Linked DNA regions of Homo sapiens. The protein of the gene in region 1 interacts with the protein of each later gene in a pairwise test. Each region holds a gene or a part of one and is shown in the gene's direction. Other genes may lie near its edges. The genes, in order: ALAS1, MTSS2, SNRPB2, ZNF175, KLHL35, WIPF1 and C2orf42.

What was found.
Region 2: the proteins of ALAS1 (region 1) and MTSS2 interact in binary tests that used the Homo sapiens proteins (3 or more experiments, as listed by UniProt).
Region 3: the proteins of ALAS1 (region 1) and SNRPB2 interact in binary tests that used the Homo sapiens proteins (3 or more experiments, as listed by UniProt).
Region 4: the proteins of ALAS1 (region 1) and ZNF175 interact in binary tests that used the Homo sapiens proteins (3 or more experiments, as listed by UniProt).
Region 5: the proteins of ALAS1 (region 1) and KLHL35 interact in binary tests that used the Homo sapiens proteins (3 or more experiments, as listed by UniProt).
Region 6: the proteins of ALAS1 (region 1) and WIPF1 interact in binary tests that used the Homo sapiens proteins (3 or more experiments, as listed by UniProt).
Region 7: the proteins of ALAS1 (region 1) and C2orf42 interact in binary tests that used the Homo sapiens proteins (3 or more experiments, as listed by UniProt).

The regions. Positions count from the first base shown.
Region 1 is NC_000003.12:52,201,160-52,204,659, forward strand, and holds part of ALAS1 (5-aminolevulinate synthase, non-specific, mitochondrial isoform 1 precursor), read left to right. Parts: intron 1-1,347; coding exon 1,348-1,575; intron 1,576-2,703; coding exon 2,704-2,853; intron 2,854-3,500.
Region 2 is NC_000016.10:70,669,054-70,672,553, reverse strand, and holds part of MTSS2 (protein MTSS 2), read left to right. Parts: intron 1-3,500. UniProt on the Homo sapiens protein: Involved in plasma membrane dynamics. Potentiated PDGF-mediated formation of membrane ruffles and lamellipodia in fibroblasts, acting via RAC1 activation. May function in actin bundling.
Region 3 is NC_000020.11:16,736,526-16,740,025, forward strand, and holds part of SNRPB2 (U2 small nuclear ribonucleoprotein B''), read left to right. Parts: intron 1-735; coding exon 736-876; intron 877-2,326; coding exon 2,327-2,377; intron 2,378-3,500. UniProt on the Homo sapiens protein: Involved in pre-mRNA splicing as component of the spliceosome. Associated with sn-RNP U2, where it contributes to the binding of stem loop IV of U2 snRNA.
Region 4 is NC_000019.10:51,574,283-51,577,782, forward strand, and holds part of ZNF175 (zinc finger protein 175), read left to right. Parts: intron 1-3,500.
Region 5 is NC_000011.10:75,426,704-75,430,203, reverse strand, and holds part of KLHL35 (kelch-like protein 35), read left to right. Parts: coding exon 1-455; intron 456-1,577; coding exon 1,578-1,762; intron 1,763-3,500.
Region 6 is NC_000002.12:174,587,805-174,591,304, reverse strand, and holds part of WIPF1 (WAS/WASL-interacting protein family member 1), read left to right. Parts: intron 1-3,500. UniProt on the Homo sapiens protein: Plays a role in the reorganization of the actin cytoskeleton. Contributes with NCK1 and GRB2 in the recruitment and activation of WASL.
Region 7 is NC_000002.12:70,149,385-70,153,019, reverse strand, and holds the end of C2orf42 (uncharacterized protein C2orf42), read left to right. Parts: intron 1-151; exon of another isoform or gene 152-331; intron 332-2,455; coding exon 2,456-2,664; 3' UTR 2,665-3,135; downstream 3,136-3,635.

The DNA.
Region 1 (3,500 bases):
TTCCAGAATGATGAAGAAAGACTTTTCTAGAAAGAAGGTGAATGAATTTGCTCAAGGGGAGAGGGAAGTCACTGTAGCTAGAAGGATAATTACCAGCCAACGGTGTTTAGTCAGCAGACTTTGATGAATTTAGATGAGAAAGTAGATGAGGTATGTGAATGTGATATACCCCTATTTTTTCTTACTTTATTAGCAATCTAAAGACCTAAGTCTTAGTCTAATTTCTGTTGTTTAGATGAAAACCAATAGCTTTTATGTTAAGCAACAGCAAGCCTCTTTGTCAAGAATCTGTTTAGAAAATGTCAGCAGAGACAGGATGTGGTGGCTCATGCCTGTAATTCCAGCACTTTGGGAGGCTGAGGCGGGAGGACTGCTTGAGCCTAGGAGTTTGATAGAAGCTAGGGCCACATAACAAGACTCCGTCTCTACAAAAAATAAAAAATAAAAAGAATTAGCTGGGCGCAGTAGAACACCTGCAGTCCAAGCTACTTGGAGAGCTAAGGTGAGAGGATCACTTGAGCCTGGAGGTCAAAGCTGCAGTTAGCTATGATTGCACCATGCACTCTAGCCTGGTTGACAGAGTGAGATCCTGTTTCAAAAAAAAAGGAAAGGAAAATGTTAGCAGAGAAAAAAATGTGTGTGAATATTTCCCGTTACCTTACAGAGTGTGTCCTCTCATAAAATAAGCTGAGTGTAGTTGGGGTAGAAATTACTGGAAATGATCCAACTCAAGGATTCCGGGTTGTCTAAAACTAGAAAATGGTACTTTTTTTGGATTTATGACGAGAAATACTGTGGGTTTAAGAGGCAACTGGAATGTGCCAGTTAACTCTTCATAGACGCATTGTTTCCTGTGAAGCAGATGAAAAACTAGAGAGATTAGCAGAACCTAATAAAAATAAGCTTGTGGCTGAGTGCAGTGGTTCACGCCTATAATCCCAGCACTTTGGGAGGCCAAGGCAGGTGGATAACCTGAGGTCAGGAGTTCAAGACCAGCCTGGACAACATGGTGAAACCCCATCTCTACTAAAAATACACAAATTAGCCAGGCATGGTGGCACACACCTGTAACCCCAGCTACTTGGGAGGCTGAGGCATGAGAATCACTTGAACCCAGGAGGTGGAGGTTGTAGTGAGCCAAGATTGTGCCACTGTACTCCAACCTGGGGTACAGAGCAAGACTCCATCTTAAAAACAAAACAAAACAAAAAAAACACTTGTGTCTGGATGGTGGGGTACAGTAAGTATTAAGTTTATCTTTGAGGCAATAAAAGAAAGAAATAAGTGGTTTTCTTACATACTGTGCAACCAGATCTGATGCTTCACTTTTTCCATTTCCTCCCTCAGAAGACAAAACTGCTAAGGCCAAGGTCCAACAGACTCCTGATGGATCCCAGCAGAGTCCAGATGGCACACAGCTTCCGTCTGGACACCCCTTGCCTGCCACAAGCCAGGGCACTGCAAGCAAATGCCCTTTCCTGGCAGCACAGATGAATCAGAGAGGCAGCAGTGTCTTCTGCAAAGCCAGTCTTGAGCTTCAGGAGGATGTGCAGGAAATGAATGCCGTGAGGAAAGGTAAGAGATGAGTTGTGAACCATTAGTGGTAGTGAAGGGGTCCTTTTAGTTCTTTTGGGCCCTCAGATTTGTGTATGAGCTATTATTAGGGCAGTATTTATGGAAACACCTTCCTCTTTTAGGGCCAGAGAGGAAGGTCTTCAAGATAGACAGTCAAGGGACTGTATTGCGAAAGTGGGACTTTCTTTCTGGTGCGTGTGTGGGATGTGACCAGCTTTTATAGTTACTACTTAATTTCTGAAAATAACCTGCAGTCTTGAGCTGCCACCAGCTGCCTTTTGTCCCTTTGGTCTTTCCCATCATCTGCTAGGATAAAGATAGAAAATAATGGTTTTACTGCAGTAAGTGCTGGTCCTAGGGCTCCCAAGCCGTGTGTCTTACTGATGGTCATTGAATTGCAACCTTAACTCCACAATATATAGGTGTGGCTATATCTGCAGAGAACTCAAGGCTCCCCAAAAGCCTAACCAGCAGAAATTATGCATATGGCCAAAATTGTTTTCTATGAAGAAAATTGAGATTAGGACCAGGCCCAGTGGCTCACACCTATAATCCCAGCACTTTGGGAGGCCGAGGCAGGTGGATCACTTGAGGCCAGGAGTTTAAGACCAGCCAGGCCAACATGGGGAAACCCCATCCCTACCAAAAATACAAAGATTAGCTGGGCATGATGGCGCATGCCTATAGTCCCATCTTCTCAGGAGGTTGAGGAGGGAGGATCGCTTGAACCCAGGAGGCAGAGGTTGCAATGAGTCGAGATCGTGCCACTGCTCTCCAGCCTGGGTGACAGAATGGGACTCTGTCTCAAAAAAAAAAAAACAGAAAATTGAGATTAGGATTGGGGTGGGGATGTAGTGGAGTGAATAAGACATGCCAACCAGCAAGAAAGCTTTGGACTTTATTGTTCATTAAAGCTGGCCAGTAGCTCTGAAAACAACACCAAGAGTCTGCCATTACAGTAACTAAAATAGAAGAGATGCTTTGTACACTCAGTTATAACTAACTTTGGTTATGCTTGGCCTTTTTTGTGAACTAGGCCATAAGCCATTTTTGACAATATGTTTGGAAGATATTGTGAACTCAGAATAGAAAGTTGGTCCCATTTGTTTCTTGTTACTTTTGTTCCAGAGGTTGCTGAAACCTCAGCAGGCCCCAGTGTGGTTAGTGTGAAAACCGATGGAGGGGATCCCAGTGGACTGCTGAAGAACTTCCAGGACATCATGCAAAAGCAAAGACCAGAAAGAGTGTCTCATCTTCTTCAAGATAACTTGCCAAAATGTAAGTCTCATTGTTATTTGCCTGATGTAGAAAAGAATTTATAATTCAAATGTACATTAGATTAAATATAAAATTGCATGGTGAGGCTGGGCACAGTAGCTCATACCTGTAATCCCAGCACTTTGGGAGGCTGAAGCGGGAGAAGATCACTTGAGGCCAGGAGTTTGAGGCCAGCCTTGGCAACATAGCAAGACACTATCTCTACCAAAACAGTTTTTTTAATTAGCCAGGCATGATGGCTTGCATCTATAGTCCCAGCTACTCAGGAGGCTAAGGTAGGAAGATTGCTTAAGCCCAAGACTTCAAGGTTCAGTGAGCTATGATCACGCTATTGCACTCCAGCCTGAATGACAGACAGAGACTCAGTTTCTAGGAAAAACAAAAAAATGTATGGTGAGTTGAGGCTTGAAAGCCATATCCCTTGCTTGCGTGAGCAGGTGCTTTTGGTTGTGGTGACTACAGGTGCTGTTGGTAGCCTGCCTTCTGTCCTTTAATACTTACCGTCTACACATGGCACTGAGCCAAACACGACATACAGTCTTATTTACTTACAAGATGAGGACATCAAATAACCTGCCCAGGATCTCCCTCAGTTGCCAAGCTGAGACTTGTTGTATTTCACCAAAATGCAGCTGTGTTTCACAACC
Region 2 (3,500 bases), on another chromosome or scaffold:
CCCCAGTGTTGACATCTTACTTTATGTAACCACCAAAAACATTTTTAAAACCAAGAAATTAACACTGGTATAATACTAAGTAACGTACAGTCTTCTATTTTTGCCAGTTTTCTCTCTCCTGTCCTGCTGGTCCAGGGGTCCATGACCCAATTCAGGACCCTACATAATGTTCCCGGGTTTTTCTCTTTTCCTTTTTTTTTTTTTTTTTTTTTGAATTTTGCTCTTATCACCCAGGCTGGAGTGCAGTGGGGCAATCTCGGCTCACTGCAACCTCTGCCTCCCAGGTTCAAGTGATTCTCCTGCCTCAGCCTCCCAAGTAGCTGGGATTACAGGCATGCGCCACCATGCCCAGCTAACTTTTTGTGTTTAGCAGAGACGGGGTTTCACCGTGTTGGTCAGGCTGGTCTCGAATTCCTGACCTCAGGTGATCTGCCCACTTCGGCCTCCCAAAGTGCTGGGATTACAGGCATGAGCCACTGCCCCTGGCTAGGACCCTACATAGTGTTTCGTGTTGGTGTCACCTCAGTTTCTGCAGCTCGTGACAGTTTCTCACACCTGTCCCTCTTTGTTTTTCATGACTTTGATACTTTTGAAGAATATCGGTCAGATGTTTTGTAGGATGCCTCTAAATCTGGCTTTGTCTGATGCCTTTTCATTCAGAATTAGAAGCCATACAGTTTTGGCAAGAGTACCACAGAAGTGCGGTTGTCCCCATGTCAGTGCATCCTAAATGCTGCACAATGTCACTGCGTCGTGTGACTGCTGATGTTCACCTTGATCCTTAGTTAAGGTGGCGTGTGCCAAGTTTCTCCACTGGAGAGTCATTATTTCTCCCTTTTTAATTAATAAAATATCCTGTGAGGGGATACTTTTGAGAGGATGAAAATGTCCTGTTTCTCCTTGTACTTTTGCTCTCTAATTTTGGCATCCACTGATGATTCTTGCTTGTTAAAATAGGTGACTTTCTATTTCTGTCATTTCTCCTACATTTATTAATTGAGATTCTACCATAAAAAGATCTGTCCCTTCTCCCCCATTTATTTATATATTCAATTTTTAATTTATATCAATATGGACTCATAAATATTTCTTTTATTCTATGGGTTATAACCCATCACCATTGAGTCTTTCAGGAACTTTTTTTTTTTTTTTGACACAGACTCTCGCTCCATTGCCCAGGCTGGAGTGCAATGGTGCGATCTTGGCTACTGCAACCTCTGCCTCCCAGGTTCAAGCCATTCCCCTGCCTCAGCCTCCTAAGTAGCTGGGATTACAGGCACACACCACCACACCCAGCTAATTTTTGTATTTTTAGCAGAGGCGGGGTTTTGCCATGTTGGATCACTCCTAATCTCAAGTGATCCGCCTGTGCCAGCCTCCCAAGTGCTGGGATTACAGGCATGACCTGCCACACCTGCCCAAGGAACTTTTTTATTGAGGTATTCTAAACACACCGAGAACAAGAACGTAAGCAGGATAACCACCACTCCTGAAGCCAGCAGTGCTCTGTTAAGTCACTACACACCCAAGGGTAACTGCTATCCTGACTACTTTTGACTTTTTTTTTTTTTTTTTTTTTTTTTTGAGACAGGGTCTCACTCTGTCACCCAGGCTGGAGTGCAGTGGCACAATCCTTGCTCAGTGCAGTCTCAAACTCCTGGGTTCAAGCAATCTTCCTGCCTCAGCCTCCCAATTAGCTGGGACTACGAGTGTGCAGTATCATGCCTGGCTAATTTTTATATTTTTTCTTTTATAGAGATGGGGGTCTCACTATGTTTCCTAGGCTGGTCTCGAACTCCTACCTTCAAGCAATCCTTCCTCTTCAGCTTCCCAAATCACTGGGATTTCAGGCATGGCCTAGTTTTGCCCTTTTTATCCTTTCTACATGTATATATGGAATCATATAGTATGTATCCTTTATGTCTGGCTTCTTTTTGCTCAGTTATGTTTATGAGATTCAGCCATGTTTTAGGTGGAAATATAGATCATGCTCATTGCTATATGGCATTCTATTGTGTGAATATGTAATTTAACCATTTTGATGGACATTTGCATAGTTTCCAGTTTTTTGGCTATGATGTTGCTAATAGTGCTGCTGTGAACATTCTAGTATGCAGTTCTGTGGGGCACATTCCTAGGAGCAGAATTGCAAAGTCATGGGATATGCACATCTTCAGATTTGATAGGTACTACCAGACAGTAAGCCAAGTGCTCATACCAATTTACCCTCCTGTTAGCAAGATTAGGACAGTGTTTTGTTTTGTGTCGTTTTGTTTTGTTTTTGAGACAGAGTCTCACTCTGTTGCCCAGGCTGGAGTGCAGTGGTGCAATTTCAGCTCACTGCAACCTCCATCCTTGGGATTCGAGTGATTGTCCTGCCTCAGACTCCCGAGTAGCTGGGATTACAGGCGCATGCCACCACACCTGGCTAATTTTTGTATTTTTAGTAGAGATGGGGTTTTGCCATGTTGGCCAGGCAGGTCTCAAACTCCTGACCTCAGGCAGTCCACCCCCCTCAGCCTCCCAAAGTACTGGGATTACAGGCATGAGCCACCACACCTGGCCAAGATTATGACAGTTCATTGCTGTTCCACATCCTCACCAGCGCTTGGCATTTTATATTGATTTCATTTTAGCCATTCTAGTGGGTGCAGAGTAATAGTAGTTCCCTGTATATTTTGTTTGCATTTCTCTAATGCTAATGAGATTGAACACCTTTTCATACTTTTTTTTTTATGAGACAGAGTCTCACTCTGTTGCCCAGGCTGGAGTGCAGTGGCATGATCTCAGCTCACTGCAACCTCCGCCTCCCGGGCTCAGGCAATTCTCCTGCCTCAGCCTCCCGAGTAGCTGGGATTACAGGCGTGTGCCACCACACCTGGGCTAATTTTTGTATTTTTAGTAGAGACGGGGTTTCACCATGTTGGCCAGGCTGGTCTTGAACTCATGACCTCAGGTAATCCGCCCGCCTTGGCCTCCCAAAGTGCTGGGATTACAGGCATGAGCCACCATGCCCAGCTTTCATACTTTTTTATAAGAGATAGGGTCTTGCTATGTTGCCCAGGCTGGCCTCATACTCTTGGGCTCAAGCAATCCTCCTACCTCAGCCTCCTGAATAGCTGAGACTACAGATGTGTGCCATTGAACCCAGCTACCTTTTCATACCTTTAAAGACCGTTAGAATATTCCCTTTCATGAAGGACCTTTTTAAATCGTTTGCCCATTTTTCTACTGGATTATCTGTCTTCTTCTTACCAATTTATAGAACTTTTTAGTATTGCAGATAAAGTTCCTCATCGGATATCTTCTCTCCTTCTATTGGGTACCTTTTTATTGTCTTAATGGGGGTCTTTTAATGACCAGAAGTTCTTAGTTTTAAAATAGTCCAGTTTATCCATTTTTAAATTGTTAGTGCTATTTGTGTCCTGCTTGAGAGATTTTTGCCTACTGCAAGGTCACAAAGATGTTTTCCTCTAAAAGCCTTTTGGTTTTGCCCTTTT
Region 3 (3,500 bases), on another chromosome or scaffold:
GTTTAAAAGAAATTTTCCATCTAGTTTTCTGCCAGAAAAGTTGTTCTGTGGGGACTCTGCCAAACCAGCCCTAGTGTTCTGTGGGCCTATTCTATCTGTAAAACAGGATTAGTCTAGAATGGCGATTTTCTTTATTTTTCACCAGCTCCCTCAAATTGCATCCCTAGGTGCTCCCTCTGTGACTGTGGGGTGAGGGTAGGTTTGGAGAGGAAAGGGCATTTGGCCTCCAGTGGGCTCTGGAGCCACAGTTCTATGTCAAGCTGAGCAGTTTTGCTTTTGTTTGTTTTATATGTTGTTTGTTGAATACCTCTGGATTAGAATAGCTGATCTTGAGCCAGATCCTCAGGCACTGAGGAGATTTGAACAGTTCAGGATTCCAAAGCCCGCTGGTGGAGCCCACTCATTTGTTCCTTTAACACTTCAATGCAGTTTTCTCTATTCTTTGATTAAATGGAGAGAAGCCGTGGTACAGATATTTCAAAGTCCTGTGTTTCTCACATGAAAATATATGTTTTTTTAATCTAATAAACACACTTGAATCTAACTTTGTCTAAATTATGAATTATAGCCCACAGTTTACTTCCATTTGGCACTCAGTATATTCTGACAGATTTTCTTAGGGATATGTTTAAAATTAGCTTGTAGTGTATTTGCGTAATGAAATTTGAAATATTAATGACTAGTGTAAACATCCTTCAGCATGAGAAGTAACCTGTTTTCAAATAATTAAAACAGCGAATACAGTATGCAAAAACAGATTCGGATATAATATCAAAAATGCGTGGAACTTTTGCTGACAAAGAAAAGAAAAAAGAAAAGAAAAAAGCCAAAACTGTGGAACAGACTGCAACAACCACAAACAAAAAGCCTGGCCAGGTAAGAAAGACCAAGAAAGTTCCTGTTTGTATTGGTGTTAAAAACTTGATAGATGCTTGTCTTACAGGTAAGGAATGATCTTAGGCTTGTCTGTATATGTGCATAAATGTGTGTTTAAAAGGTGGTTTTAAGAAGCTAGAATGGTTGACTTATAAAATTCAGTATTAAGAAACAAAATATAAACCTTAACATGGAGATTTATATTAAGCAGTTTTATATTTGCATGGCATTTAATTCGATCATTGTTTAAAATATGTTAATACCTTTTGGTTTATTTCTCAAGTTTTGCTGCCTATAAATAATACTGTAGTTATTATCTTTAATCATGAGTACTTCACTCAAAGTATCTTTCTGGCTGGGCGCAGTGGCTCTTGCCTGTAATTCCAGCACTTTGGGAGGCCGAGGCAGGAGGATCACGAAGTCAGGAGATCGAGACCATCCTGGCTAACACGGTGAAACCCCGTCTCTACTAAAAATACAAAAAAAATTTAGCTGGGCTTGGTGGTGGGTGCCTGTAGTCCCAGCTACTCTGGGGGCTGAGGCAGGAGAATAGCATGAACCTGGGAGGTGGAGCTTGCAGTGAGCCGAGATTGTGCCACTGAACTCCAGCCTGGGCAACAGAGTGAGACTCTGTCTCAAAAAAAAAAAAAGAAAAAAAAAAACCCAAAAAACAAACAAAAAAAACAGTGTCTTTCTTTGAACAATTCAGTAATGCAAAATATAATTTGAAATACCAGATAAAAGTGAAATGAACTGCTTGGCGCCATGGTGGCTCATGCCTATAATCCCAGCACTTTGGGAGGCTGAGGTGGGTGGATCACCTGAGGTCAGGAGTTCAAGACCAGCCTGGCCAACATGGTGATACCCCGTCTCTACTAAAAATACAAAAAATTACCTGGCCGTGGTGGTGGATGCCTGTAATCCCAGCTACTCAGGAGGCTTGAAGCAGGAGAATTGGTTGAACCTGGGAGGCAGAGGTTGCATTGAGGCAAGATTATGCCATTGCACTCCAGCCTGGGTGACAAGAGCAAGACTCCATCTCAAAAAAAAAAAAAAAAAAAAGTGAAATTCACCAAAAAGTAATTACTTCTGGATTGAAAGTGATTAAAAGTCAGTTTTATTAAATGACTTATGTCCAGTTGTTTTTAAAAGTAAGACTAGGCCTTGGTTTTCTCTTATATATTTCTCCATAATTTTAAAGCTAAGAGGTTAAATTTTATAATATACTATTTAAAGTTTAGGGCTGGTCTTAACAAAAATAACCGACAAATTAAGAACATGAGTGTTTGAGTCAGTGTTAAGATATAAATTCTTAAAGTAAAATTAAATGGAGTAAGAAGGATATCTCTTGGAATTAATGTTATTTTTAATGCAGTAATTATAAATATAAATACCTGCTGCGTTTTTGGAGGGATTGGATATTTAAACTCTCCCTATTTATTTTGCTTAGGGAACTCCAAATTCAGCTAATACCCAAGGAAATTCAACACCAAATCCTCAGGTAATTTTTTTTCCATGTCGTGCTTACCTTAAAATAAGATTGTAAAAATTACAGCAGTGGTATAAAACAATTTCCATGTCTCCAAAAACAAAATGATTTCATCTACAAGACACAGTGCGTTAAATTGTCTGCCACTGCAATGTAAGAACTCAACTCCTGAAGAACATTTTAATTCTTTTTTAGAGAGAGAAAACGACACCTGACTTTATTTCTTGTTTTCCATAATGAATCAATGACAGAATCAAAATGACAGACTTTAAACTCTAAGGGCTGGGAGCAAACATTTTGGTTTCCTCTACAGTACCTAAAGCTTTACACAGTTGCATGGGTAAGGGTAACTGGCAGGGTCAGGGGCTCTCTTCCATTCCAGTTGGTTGAAACACTACAGTGTTACACTCTTTGGGCACATAGTTTTATAGTTAACCTTTGCTCTCACTTCCTGAACACAAATAAATTCCAGCCTTTTTTTTTTAAGCCTCCTTGTACAAATGTTTTAGAAACTCCGTATTAAATCTCCCCATGACATACCTCAAAGAGAAGGCCTCAGTAATGTGCTGATGGTTTCATACTTTTTTTTTTCCAGATGGCGGGGTCTGGCAAGATCCTTAAATCCATAGAATTCTCTGTACCACTGAGGTTTTTCTCCTCTTGTTTTAAGTTACTTGGGTTTTTTATCTCCTCAGCATTTATAGTCCAGTTCACAAATGCCAGCACTTAATCCTCTAAGCCTTGAGTTGTTCACTAATTATTTTTTATACTTGCTCTTTTCTCTTTTATGACAGTAGCAGGAAGACAGAGCTCTTTTCTTATATAGAAGACCCTTTCTTTAGTTCCCCATAACCTCTGGGTGGGATATCAAATGAGTAATATCTAATAAACTAAGTGTTTGTTACTGCTTGTTTGTATGTAACTAGATGCTGTGTATATCTCATTTATTTGCCAAAAATAAGTAAATTAAAAGTCCCTAAGCAGTGGTTCTCGGTGGTAATCTTTCTAGTTCCAATTTTTTTTTTTTTTTTTAGTATGCTGGGAAGTAGTAACAGTACAGAGGAATTGAGTATCTGAGTGATACTGAGTGTGGTAACCAGCTACGGAGGGGTGACATTGCTGGCCATCTCTAATT
Region 4 (3,500 bases), on another chromosome or scaffold:
AAGTATTAAAAGAAGGGAACATTAACACAAAATAAATTGCACATATAAATCATTTTCAAAATTGTAAATACCCCAAATATTTAAAAGTCGTTCTTAAAAGAAAAATTGAAACATACAAGTTTAGGTGGGGCACAGTGGCTCATGCACTTTGGGAGGCCGAGGCGGGCGGATCACTTGAGCCCAGGAGTTGGAGACCAGCCTGGGCAACATGGCGAGACTCTACAAAAATACAAAAATTAGCCAGGTGTGGTGGCATGCACCTGTAGTCCCAGCTACTGAGTACGTTGACGTGGGAGGATCACCTGAGCTTGAGGCGGTCAAGGTTGCAGTGAGCTGCAATCATGACACTACACTCCAGCCTGGGCAATAGAGTGAGACCCTGTCTCAAAACAAAACAAGTTTAAAACATGAAATTGTCTAAGTCTTTGTGACAGCAGTGCAGATGCACAAACGTTTCTCTCATTTGCATTGATGTTGGTCAACTTGCGTGTTCAGAACATCTTCAAGTTTAGCGTTTTAGGACACATGTTCAATATAAGCTTTTTTCCTTTTTTAACAATGAAATTTTTTTTCTGCTTGACCTGATTTCCAGTTTATCATTTGAATCAATACTGCTGTCGCTAATTCAGATTTTCCATCAGTGTCTGAATTCATGTCAGAGTATATCCCAGTACCATGCACATTATCTTCTCTTTGTGGTGTGTATTTCCCTCTGCTCTGGACAGTACTATTTTTATTTTGTTATTTTTATCTTTTCTAATGTGATGGAAATAAAGATAGTATAGTGTTTTAATTTGCATTACTTTGTTTACAAACAGGCTTTTTTTTCATAATTTTATTGGTCAATTACTTGTCTTTAGTGAGTTACTTTTTCTTACCTTTTGATTTATATTTTGGTTTGGTTTAGCCTCCGGATTTTTAGAGAGGTTTTTTTTTTTTTTTTTTTTTTTTTGAGACGGAGTCTCGCTCTGAAGCGCAGGCTGGAGTGCAGTGGCGCAATCTCTGCTCACTGCAAGCTGCACCTCCCGGGTTAACGCCGTTCTCCTGCCTTAGCCTCCTGAATAGCTGGGAGTACAGGCGCCTGACAGCACTGCTGGCTAATTTTTTTGTATTTTTAGTAGAGATGAGGTTTCACCATGTTAGCCAAGATGGTCTTGATCTCCTGACCTCGTGATCCGCCTGCCTCAGTGTCCCAAGAGAGTTCTTACACAGTAATAACCTAAGGTCCTTTTTGCATATGTTTGTAAATACTTTTTGTTACTTTTTCCTTTGAAAGTAGGTTTTAGTTTTGTTTGAACATAGGAAAGAGGATCAGATGGTTTTGTGAAGCCTGTAATCTTTTAAAAGGGCTGTCACTTGCTATATTTTTACCAAAGTTCCAGCTCCTCCCAGGCAATCACATTTTACATTTTTAGCTAATTATTTTGGCATTTACCTCCTAATCTTTTAGTGACATGCTTATATTGCTGCCTCTTGGATTGTTAATTAACACGTTAATTAATTAAGAAACATGTCATTAAAAGGTTTGCTTTTACCCGCTTCCTCATACTTTCACCCCCAACACCTGCTTTCCTTGCCCATCCTTCTCTAGAACTGGTTCAGATTCTGATCAGGTCAATCTTCCTTGTTTGTGATTATGACTGTGTAAACTATATTCAGAGCTGCCTGTATAGACACCCTGATAACTCTCTGCCTGCATAACTTACGGTTTTTCCCTGGAGCACACAATTTTATGGATTATTTACTTGCCTATATACATGTTAATGTATTATACCATTTTCTCCAAGTGTGTACACACTGTCTTCATAAATTGAATTTGTTACTAGGTAATTGCAAACCCTCGCTATTTCAGGGACAGTTTTTTTTTTTGTTTTTTTTTTTTTTTGAGACAGAGTTTCGCTCTTGTCTCCCAGGCTGGAGTGCAATGGCGCGATCTTGGCTCACTGCAACCTCTCCTCCTGGGTTCAAGCCATTCTCCTGCCTCACTCTCCTGAGTAGCTGGGATTACAGGCACTTGCCACCACGCCTGGCTAATTTTTATATTTTTAGTAGAAACAGGGTTTCACCATGTTGGGCAGGCTGGTCTCAAACTCCTGACTTCAGGTGATCCGCCAGCCTCGGCCTCCCAAAGTGCTGGGATTACAGGCATGAGCCACCACACCCGGCCTTCAGGAACAGTTTTAATCCTCATAACTTTGCGAGGTACTGCTGCCATTATCCCCCCTTTACAGACAAGAAGACTGAGGCACAGAATGAAATAAGTGGCTCAAGTTTACATAGTCAGCAAGCAGCCAGCCTGGGATTGAAGGCAGGCAGTTTGCTTGAGGGTTGGGGCTGTCAATGCCATCTCCTTGAGGAAACCTTTCCTATTGCTTTTTTGTCTTGATGCGATTGGACCTGGCTGTTCTCCTGGCGCCTCACGCTGTCTTCTCATGGTGCTGTGTTCACCATCACCTGGGAATTCTTTTTTTCTCTGTCAAGTGTCCAGTTCCTTGTGTCTTGAATCCTTTCTTGAATCCTTTGGCTTTCTCTTCCACGGTTTACCGTTACTCTCATTTCGTGAAAGTGCATCCCCTAGGAGTTCTTGGGGACGGTACACGGCAGTAAATCCTGTGAGAACTTATCTGAACATGTCTGTTCAGATAACGGAGACTAAACTTAAGAATAGGAGAATCACTTGACCCAGGAGGTTGAGGCTGCAGTGAGCTGTGATGGCACCACTGCACTCCATCCTGGGTGACAGAGTGACATCCTGTCTCAAAAAACAAAAACGAAAACAAAAGACCTGAGAGGTTTACATATATGAGCATGACATGAAAGTGAAATGATATGAAAATGAATGATATGAAAATGTCACGCCAAAAAGCAAAGATCATATATTTGCATATTTAATAGAAAGATGTCACGGAAAATGACTTGATTTACCCTCACACTAAGTTGATCTTTGCCTGGGTTCATAGGTTGGAAATCATTTTTTTCTTCCTAAAACACCCCATATACTACTTCCTTACCACACACATATAGTCTCTCTGCTCTCAAATCCTGAAACTCTTTATTTTTAAGCTGTTAGTCTCCATTTAAAAGGGTTTTTATGCTCTGTCATTTTCTATTTCTTTGGTTTTGGACCCTCTTTCTGGAAGAATTTCTCAACTTTATTTTCTAGCCCTCCGATAATCATTACTGCCTTAAAAAATTTTTAAGAGCTTTTAGATATGAATACTCCTTTTAATGACATGATGTTTTTGTTTAATGATTGAACTATCTTACCTAAGGATATTTGAGATATTTTAAAATGTAATTTTATGAATAGATAATACACAGCATTCACAAATTAAAACATCATGAAAAGTAATTTTTTTACAAAATACTCCTTTCTCTCTCTTTTTTTTTTTTTTTTTTGAGATGGAGTCTCACTCTGTCGCCCAGGCTGGAGTGCAGTGGCACGATCTTGGCTCACTGCAAGCTCCGCCTCCCGGGTTCACGCCATTCTCCTGCTTCAG
Region 5 (3,500 bases), on another chromosome or scaffold:
GTGCGCTTTCTCGAGGGCCGCCTGCGCGCCGCCAACAGCCTAGCGCTGCGCCGCGTGGCCGCCGCCTTCTCGCTGGCCCCGCTGGCCGAGCGCTGCGGCCGCGTCCTGCGTCAGGCCTTCGCCGAGGTGGCGCGCCACGCCGACTTCCTGGAGCTGGCGCCTGACGAGGTGGTGGCGCTGCTGGCGGACCCCGCGCTGGGCGTGGCGCGCGAGGAGGCCGTGTTTGAAGCGGCCATGCGCTGGGTGCGCCACGACGCGCCGGCCCGCCGCGGCCAGCTGCGACGCCTGCTGGAGCACGTGCGCCTGCCGCTACTGGCGCCCGCTTACTTCCTGGAGAAGGTGGAGGCGGACGAGCTGCTGCAGGCCTGCGGCGAGTGCCGCCCGCTGCTGCTCGAGGCTCGCGCCTGCTTCATCCTGGGCCGCGAGGCCGGTGCGCTGCGGACCCGGCCGCGGAGGTAGGGCCGCCATCCCCTAGCTTCCCGCCCTCCGTTCTTCCCGCCTGCTTCCACCGCTCATTCATTCTTTCATCATCTTTTAGTACTGCCTCTTGATGATATTCAGTCATTCGTTCAACATTTTAGAGGCTCGGTGCCCATAATTCTGCCCTTGAAGAGTTAACAAGCCAGTGAGGGAGATGCAGAGACCCCACAGCTGCGCACACTCTCTTTGGCCCATGCAACCGTAATTCCGAGTACTTACTACTCTACGCAAGTTCTGTGCAGGGTGCCGGGATGCGGAAGTGATTTGAAAACACTCTTTGCCCTCTGGGAGCTCGCAGTCTAATGAGGGATAGAAATAGGCAGGGGCATGGGGAAGTAGTGAAAGCAGCCTGCCCCACCTTTGGAAAGCCAGACTGGGAGGCTCTGGGCAGAGTAGCCCTTAATCATGCCCCCAGAGACGACACTCTCTCTAACACTAAGCACAGGGCCTGGGACAGAGATCCTCAAATATGTGCCAAAGGAATTAGAAAACCAATGGCTAAAAGGGTATGGAAATTCTGGTGGCGTCAGATGGTGGGGTCAGTGAGAGGGAAGAATGATTTACTGAAAGGGTGAGTTATCCGGCTTAATGGAATTAGGGATGAGGGGATGTCATAGGAGGAGGGAGGCAGCAGAATCAGCGGTTGGAGGTGAGAAAAGGGTGTTGAAGATGAGTTAGCGACAGACAAACCTGGGCTTGAATTCCAGCTCTGACGCTTAATGGCTTTGGGCACGCCATGGTATGTGAGCCTCAGTTTCCTCCCCTGAGAAAGGGGTAATAATCCCTACTAATAGAACTGCCATACAGATTAAACGAGGTGATTTTTCTAGGTGAGGGCAAGGGCTCTGTAAAGATTTTTTTTTCTGTAGTTTAGAGGTCAGCAGAATGCGGTAAGCATTAGCGATTCTCTTCCCAGTACCCACAGGCAAAGTTGGAAGTGGCAGGGTCTAGCGGGATTGAGGCCGGGGGATCGGGTGGGCGGGGGTGATGGCAGAAACGCATGAAAGGGCAGCGGGACCGTGCAGTGTGGTCGAGAGGGTAAGAGAGGGCCGAACTTGGGTGCGGCCCAACAGGCACTGGGCTTATCCGCACGCCAGATTCATGGACCTAGCTGAAGTGATCGTGGTCATCGGCGGTTGCGACCGCAAAGGTCTCCTGAAGCTGCCCTTCGCCGATGCCTACCATCCAGAGAGCCAGCGGTGGACCCCACTGCCCAGCCTGCCCGGCTACACTCGCTCAGAATTCGCCGCCTGTGCTCTCCGCAATGACGTCTACGTCTCCGGTGAGGGCGGAGCCGCAACGGGAGCTCACACGGGATTGACTAGTAGCCTCCGCACTCCACCCCCTTTGCTTTTCCCTCCAATCGGGAGAGAGGGGCGGGATGTTTTCTGATAACCTACAGTTATTGGCTGAAGTGAGCAGGGCTAACTACGCGTGTGACCCGCCCTTTATTCAGGAATGTTAACTTCAATACATATGATTACTTTTTGTTCTGAACCGGCTTCCTAAGGAAGTCAATTCGTATTAGTATTAATAATCACTTCAACTAGCCTACTATGTGCCGAACATTATGCTAAGAAGCTTACATTCGTTATCATTAAATCCCCCTACAATGCTGTTTTACAGATAAGAAAGGCTCGGAGAGGCTCAGAATTTCCCCCATTGTCTCAAAAATGGCAAAGCTAGGAGGAACACACATCTGTTTGATACCAACAAACTGTGTCCTCCCTAAGGCTCAAGCCCTAAAGACTCAGAGAAGCATAAAACACAGTCCTTGCTCCCCTGGAGTGTCCTGGAGAGGAGAGAGACTTCACTTTTACTGCCAGGCAGAATGTGATCAGAATTCTCAGAGTCCCCAGATGATCTGGAATGCCACTCAGGGAATCTAGCCAGGGTTCATAGAAGAGATGACTTTTCAGCTGGACCTTGAAAGTTGGAGGGAACAGTATGGGCAAAGGCACAAGGGCAGGGACATGCAGAAAGGAACCCTGGGGACTCAGGGCTCTGAAGTGCAGGTTGAGTATCACAGGTGAGGCAGGAGTCAGATCAGGGAGGCTTTGAGTCTGGGGCTAGGTGGATTGACCTTAATGTTGTAAAGAACTATGGGTGCCTGCAAAGAGTAAGGAGCAGGAGAATAAGCCAGGGAGGCCTCACAGACCATCCAGGCCACAGATTACCACTGGACAATTTATCCAAGGCCATTGATGGCTCTGAGCAACATGTGGGGCCTTTGTTGGGTGCCACTAGGAATAAACAAAGATGGGGCTACCAAACAGATGTGGCTCTGGTCACAGGCTCAGGCTGAAGGGTGCAGTTAGGGTTGTCCCCAGGGAGGCTCCCATTGAGAGGTGAATCCCTGGCCAAGATCCCCAGGGTGGCCAGACATGGGAAGGGAGAGTCCACATCCTGCATCCCCAGTACCTGGCCCCATAGGGCATGCCATGTCCTCCAGCAGCACCAATGCTGGGCCTGGAGCCAGAAGCTCTGGTTCTGGCTCTGACAAAAGGCCATGTAGTCTTCAGCAGGTCATTGTTGGTCTCTAAGTCTCATCTGAGTTTCTTATATGTAAACTGGGTCTAATATTCCCAACACCTCATGGAGGGATGAGATCAGAAATGAAATTGTGCAGGTGAAGGCAGAAGGGAGGGAGGGTTATTGGGTCACCCTCTACCTATCCTGGCTCCCAGTGCAGCTGGCTCTGCTTTTCCTGGATCCCCAGTACATTCCAGATGCTTGCCTTAGGTACCCTTTGTACTCTTACCTTTAGTACAGCGGCCCCCTCTTTGCTTTCCTGAGCACAGAGCCTGGCACACCACCACCACCACCACAAGGTGCCCGGCGAAAACCAGCCCCTTCTTCCTGAATGTGTCAGGCTTCTCCCCTCGAGGGTCGTAACTCAGACATTCCCACCACTTATTCAAAGCACACTGGGTCACAGGTCCAGAGTCTTACACCAGCTCAAGAAGTCCTCCTGCTGCCTTCCCTTAACCCTTCCTTTGGATCTGGGGGCCCTAGTTTCT
Region 6 (3,500 bases), on another chromosome or scaffold:
GCTAGGACTGCCATAATAAAATACCACAGCCTGGGTAGATCAAATAACAGAAATTTGTTTTCTCCCAGCTCTGGAAGCTGGAAGTCCAAGATCAAGATGTGGGCAGGTTTGGTGTGTTCTGAAGCCTCTTTCCTTGGTTTGCCACCTTCTCACTGCGTCTTCACTTGAAGACTTTCCTCTGTGTGAGCACATGCCTGATGTCTCTTCCTCTTTGTATGAGGACACCAGTCAAATTGGATTAAGATCTCACCCAATGGCCTCATTTTAGCTTAATCACCTCTTTAAAGACCCTATCTCCAAATACAGTTGCCTTCTGAGGTCCTGAGGGTCAGGAATTCAGCATATCACTTTTGCAGGGGACATAGTTCAGACCGTAATACTGTATGTGAAAACAAAAGCCTTTTCTGTCCCTTGAGTTTTCTTTGTGTTTGTAGAAGTCAACACACCAAGTAAAGATTTTAGAAAGTCTGGCTTTTCTATCATGAAAGTTACTTAACATTGAAATTATTCTTAAAAAGAAATTAATTCTGAAAAGTGTGACTTCTTAAAAGTTCATTGCTTGGGTTGGGGTGGGGTAGGAGGGCAAGGCCCAGCAAGTGGGTAGGCATGTGATCCGACACTACTGAGAGCCCAACTAGTCTGGGAAGCCGGACACAGGCACAGCAGATTCTGATGCAGGAGATGACTGACCACACTGGGAAACTGCTGCTGAGTCCCTTCCCTTCTTGCGTCTCTCCTGCACCCGAATCAGCTGCCTTTCCTGCCATGCTCCCATCTCCAAGGGAAGAACCAAATGCTGGGAGGCCCAGTCATCAGTCAGCCTCATTCCCACCCAGGCAGATCCACCCACAGCCACTGAGCAAAGCTGTGGCCCCTCAGACTAGCCTCCAGGTCCATCCCTCCTCTGCCAGGCACTCAGCAGCTTGTACCAGCAGGACCCATCCTCACCCTCTGAAGGACAGAGCTAAGCCCTGTCCACTGACAGCTTTGCTCCCCCAGGCCATGCTGAAAGCCTTGCACACACCATTTCATTTAATCTGCTCAGCAACTTCCCATTTAACAGATGGGAAAAACAAATTCCCATCTGAATCTGCCAGGTGGCAGAGCAAGGATTCAGAACCAAATTTGCCTGACCAAGGTCTCATGTTCTCCCTTTTTCATTCTATAAACCCACTGGTAAAGCCCAAAGGACTCCTTTTTTTAAAAAATTTAATTTTAATTTGTTTTTATTTTATTTTATTTTATTTTTAGAGATAAAGGGCTCACTTTGTAGCCCAAGCTAGTCTTAAACTCCTGGGCTCAAGCAGTCCTCCCACCTTGACCACCCAAAGTGTTGGGATTATAGGCATAAGTCACCACTCCCAGTCCCAAAGGGACCCTTTTGTGTCTACGTTTAAATGCATAAAATAAAATACAGAGAATTACAAAGGAAACTAATTTATTAAAATATGTACTTCTTTATTAATGGTTTAAACAACAAGATCTAGCAATGGATCTAAACGTTGCCAGCATGTTGAAAATTGTTGGTGTGTAGTTGTAATATGATGTGAAATATCACGTGAAAACTATGGGTGAAAGAATATCAGATATTATGGTTTGTGGCCTGCATTCATAATCAAAGGAAATGCTACATTTCAGTTAGTGCTTAGTAGAAATAATATGTACTTTTTTTTCATACAAGTTCATGAACCCTTGAATTCTATCCACAGACTCTGGGTGTGAGGATCCAGGCAGGAATGCCTGGTCTGTTAGGATCCGTGCTCTAGGGCCAAGGCCTTCAGTAAGATCTGGCTGTGGCTCTGATGTGGGCTGTCAAGTCCATGAGAGGAGGGAAGCCCTCCTCTCCCAGGGCCTTGGGGCTCTACTTCTCTGGGGAAGTTGGAGGCTGCCAGGAAAGTAAGTTCCAGTCTGCAACACTAGCAAGCCCCTCTGAAATAGGGCTGATTCTTTTGCCCAGATCTCACAGTGCGGTGGGGTGATGCTGGGAGCCCTTCAAGTGGCAAGCACTCGGCTTGTTTGTGTGATACACAGTTCTTTCACTGCATATATATTTAGTAAGAACCCTACTTTGTGCCAGGTATTGGCAAGACCCCATGGAGTCCATAGGCTGGTGGAAAGACAGCCAAGAAGTGGGCCTGGTGTGGCCGGTGGGCCCAGTGTTGGGGCACACGAGCTTGGTCTTTGATCCAGGGGCTGAGTGAGGTGGCAGTATTGGAGTCTGGGGTTTCTCACACACTTCCCTTGAGGCCCCAGCCTGGAGAAGTCCAGACCGTGCCCAGCAGTTGTTCAGCTAGAAGGGAGGAGAGAGGACATGGCAGCCTCCCTCATCTGTGTTACCATTGAGATTGGAAAGGGACAGTTAATCTGGAGGGGAGTGAGAGATGGGGCCAGGGAAAGCAAGCCATGCAAACAAGTTCGCAGAGGAAGAGAGGAAAGAGCACTTAGTTCTGCATCACCCTCTAAAAAGTGAGAGCCCTCACCCGTAGACCCTCTCCCCACTGTCCATCTGAAGTGGCCAGGAAGGAAAGGCAGCACTTCTTTCAATACCTCAGACCCTTTAATAGCATCTTGCTCCCTGAACCTTGTTTTTGCCTGCTAATTTCTGCAATCTGGCCTTGGCTCTGGCCCCAGCCATGACTGTTGCCATTTCTCCCACACTAGCCCTCTGGACCATGAAGTTAACACGCCCTCCCTGGAGCTGTCATCCAGAAGTTAATATACAAGTCAGTTAGTGCACAGACAGTACTAAAACAGCAGCAACAGAGAATTGTAAAATAATTAAGGAGGCCTTTCAGGGTGGCAGCCCCTGAAAGGGTCCCCATTCCACAGTCTGCCCCCTAAGCTGTGCAGGACAGAAGTTCAATTTGATCTCTGTTACGAGAGCCGAACTCATGACAACCATACCCATAAGAGGTTCCTGTTAGTTGACCAGAATATCCACCCTTTCCTAGATATTAGGATCACAGAATGACAGAAAGTTAATCGGTGAACGTGGAGTCAGACAAAATAGTCTTGAGGGATTTTTCATCAACCAAGCACGTGGATGCACTGTTCCCACAGCCCATCTCTTGGGCCCACCGGGCAGACCAGGCTATCCCCCTTCCTTGGTAAGCCTTTCCCAACTCTGATCATACCATTGATTTGGCTCCAGCATCTTTCGCAGTAGTCAGGCCTGAATCAGATCCCTTTCGTTCCTGCTGGTCCTAGGAGACGTCTGACTCCAAGGCCTCTGAATGTGCCGCTGGAGATGCCCCTTGATGGAGGACCCCCTAACACAGGCACCCAGTCCTGCTCACAATGCCCATGTGGCCCTATGGGTGACTAATTGATGTCATGCCAGAAAGAGCAATTTAAGAAACAGACTTTAAAAGAATCCTTGCCTGAGACAGTCTCTTACTGAAAACAGATTCCAGCCTAGTTAACAGGTGAGCTGTGGCACTAATTCGCCTGCCTGAAAGTGTTTATCAGACCATTAAAAGGGCAGTGAGTGAGTGAGGCAG
Region 7 (3,635 bases), on another chromosome or scaffold:
GCTCTGTTGCCTAGGCTGGAGTGCAGTGGTGCGATCTTGGCTCACTGCAACCCCTGCCTCCCAGGTTCAAGCAATTCTTTTATCTCAGCCTTCTGAGTAGCTGGGATTACAGGGGCGTGCCACCACGCCTGGCTAATTTTTGTATTTTTAGTAGAGACGGAGTTTCACCATCTTGATCAGGCTGGTCTCGAACTCCTGACCTCATGATCTGCCCGGCTTGGCCTCCCAAAGTGCTGGGTTTACAGACGTGAGCGACTGCACCTGGCCCTGCTATTCACCTTAAATGCACCTACTCTCCTCCAAGTCCCCTTTGCAGTCATCAAGAATTCAGGTACATGAGTGGGGAGGGGTGTGTGTGAGATGTTCTAAAGGAAACGAAGTGGCGCTGCTCATTTGCTGCTCTGTACAAGTACTAGCCAGGGCACAAACAGTGAGAGAGACAAAGTATTTTCCTGCCTTTTTCCATGTAGCCTCCCTTTATGAAGGAAAGATGGGATATGCTATGGCCAAAGTCTGGGTAGGTTTCTTTCCATCCATCTCCACCTGTTTTATATTTCCTCCCAGAAGCTGCCAGTAGTCTTAGTGTTCATCAGTTGTAAGTTTTTATCTTTTTCTATGTCTTCATTGATATTTAAGTGAAAAGTTGGCAGCAGCTCCAGATATCATTTGAAATGGAAGCTAGAATGTCTGTGACAAACATGAACTAGATAATACCTAACATTTATATTCTATGACTAAAAGAAACCAAACAGACCAAAATACCCTGCCAATGAAGTTGTTAGTCTGGGGTGGGTGGATGGATGCTTTGTTTCTCATCATATCAGTGATGTCTTAGTCTTTGTGAGAAAGGACCAAAAGAAGTAGAGGGAAGGAATTTAAAAGGGGTGACTATTTAGGCTAAAGTGGAGGGAGAGTAACATAGTGAAGTTAAAAGTAAAATATAAGCCAGGCGCAGTGGCTCACGCCTGTAATCCCCACACTCTGGGAGGCTGAGGTGGGAGGATCATCAGAGGTCAGGAGTTCGAGACCAGCCTGGCCAACCTGCTGAAACCCTGTCTCTACTAAAAATACAAAAATTAGCTGGACATGGTGGTGCGTGCCTGTAGTCCCAGCTACTTGGAAGGCTGGAGAATCACCTGAACCCAGGAGGTGGAGGTTGCAGTGAACCGAGATTGCAACACTGCACTCCAGCCTGGGCAACAGAGCAATACTCCATCTCAAAAAACAAACAAACAAACAAAAAAGTAAAATATTAGCTTATGAAGTCAAAGATTTAGTAGTGCTGAGAGAAAAATGTATATACATTGTTAATTTTTATAATATAAAAATGTATATACATTAATTAATCCATCCTTCTTGTTTTTTTATTTTTTGGGGGTGTTTTTTGAGGCGGAGTCTCACTCTGTTGCCCAGGGTGGAGTGAAGTGGTGCGATCTTGGCTCACTGAAGCCTCCACCTCCTGGGTTCAGGCGATTCTTCTGCCTTAGCCTCCCGAGTAACTGGGATTACAGGAGCATGCTACCACACCTGGATAATCTTTGTATTTTTAGTAGAGACGGTTTTGCCGTGTTGGTCAGGCTGGTCTCAAACTCCTGACCTCAAGTGATCCGCCCACCTCAGCCTCCCACAGTGCTGGAATTACAGGTGTAAGCCACTGTCCCTGGCCTATCCTTCTTGTTTTCTTGTATTACTTTGTTTTTTTGAGACAAAGTCTCACTGTATTGCCCAGGCTGGCATTGAACTACTGGGTTCAAGCAGTCCTCCCACCTCAGTCTCCCAAGTAGTTGGGACTATGGGCACATTTCACCACACCTGGCTAATTTAATTTTTTGTAGAGACAGGGTCTCACTTTGTTGCATAGGCTGGTCTTAAACTCCTGGCCTCAAGCTATCCTCTCGCCTTGCCCACCAACACTGTTGGGATTACAGGCATGAACTACCATGCCTGGCCTAAATATATATGTTTTAACTTCATGATGGCTGGGCGTGGTGGCTCACGCCTGTAATCCCAGCACTTGGGAGTCTGAGGTGGGCGGATCACAAGGTCAAGAGATTGAGCCATCCTGGCTAACACGATGAAACCCCATCTCTACTAAAAATACAAAAAATTAGCCAGGTGTGGTGGCACGTGCCTGTAATCCCAGCTACTCAGGAGGCTGAGGAAGGAGAATCGCTTGAACCCGGGAGGCAAAGGTTGCAGTGAACTGAGATTGCGCCACTGCACTCCAGCCTGGGTGCCAAAGCGAGACTCCGTCTCAAAAAAAACAAAATAACCCAAAAACTTCATGATGATCAATAAATCTGATATCCCAATCACCACTGAATTTATAAACCTCATTCGGCCTTCTGATTATCAAAGCTGAACAGGCTGCTCCAATTCCGGACACTTTTTTTGCAATTAGGAACACCCATTAGAGTTAGGTGGAATTGTACTAATACTCCTTTCTTCTCTTTAGGCAACACTTCCCCAGATCAAAAGGAGCCAACACCTTTCATCATCGAGTGGATCCCAGATATCCTTCCCCAATCTAAGATTGGCGAGCTGCGGATCAAGTTTGAGTATGGCCACCACCGGAATGGGCATGTGGCGGAGTACCAAGACCAGCGGCCCCCCTTGGACCAGCCCTTGGAACTGGCCCCTCTGACCACTATTACTTTCCCTTAAAGCAAAACAAGATAATAATCTTTTGCTGCTTAATTTGCACATCCCCACCCCTTGACAACTTTAAATGCTAGTTAGGCACTTAGATGGCCCTGTTCCTTGGTAAACTGCTCTTAGCTAAGATGCAAATTCTCAGTGCTTTCAAGTGGATTCTGTTGAAGAAAATCTCTTGTAAATAGCCTTTTTGATGCTGCTGTGTACAGTCTTCATTATGCATTGGGCAGTATTTCTGGCTAGAGTTTTAAAAGGAACAGAAAGAAAACCAGCTTATTTTCCTTCTTACGGACTCATCTTTAGCGTTTATTTCAACCTTTTGCTAATTCTCTGAGAAATCTGCAGCACTCAGCCATACACCAACAGTGTTGGAAAGTTAACACCCTGGTTAGGGCAGAATGTTAAAGACCATCTTGGCAGAGTTCCAGCCACGCTCTTTATTCTGTTCTCAAATAAAGCAGTGTCACTAGTTTTTCCTAATTATATCTCATGGTTGCCTGTTTATAAAATTATAAATTTCGGGGGGGGGAGGCGGGATTTAACTGATAGTGATACTGGAAAAAGAGATCCAGGTGTGTCCGGAATTGGTGGGTTCTTGGTCTCACTGACTTCAAGAATGAAGCCGCGGACCCTCGCGGTGAGTGTTACAGCTGTTAAGGTGGCGCGTCTGGTGTCTGCCCCTTCTGATGTTCAGATGCGTTCGGAGTTTCTTCCTTCTGGTGGGTTCGTGGTCTTGCTGGCTCAGGAGTGAAGCTGCAGACCTTCGCGGTGAGTGTTACAGCTCTTAAGGCAGCGCGTCTGGAGTTGTTCATTCCTCCCGGTGGGCTCGTGGTCTCGCTGGGCTAAGGAGTGAAGCTGCAGATCTTCGCGGTGAGTGTTACAGCTCATAAAAGCAGCATGGACCCAAAGAGTGAGAGCAGTAGCAAGATTTATTGCAAAGAGCGAAAGAACAAAGCTTCCACAGTGTGGAAGGGGACCCG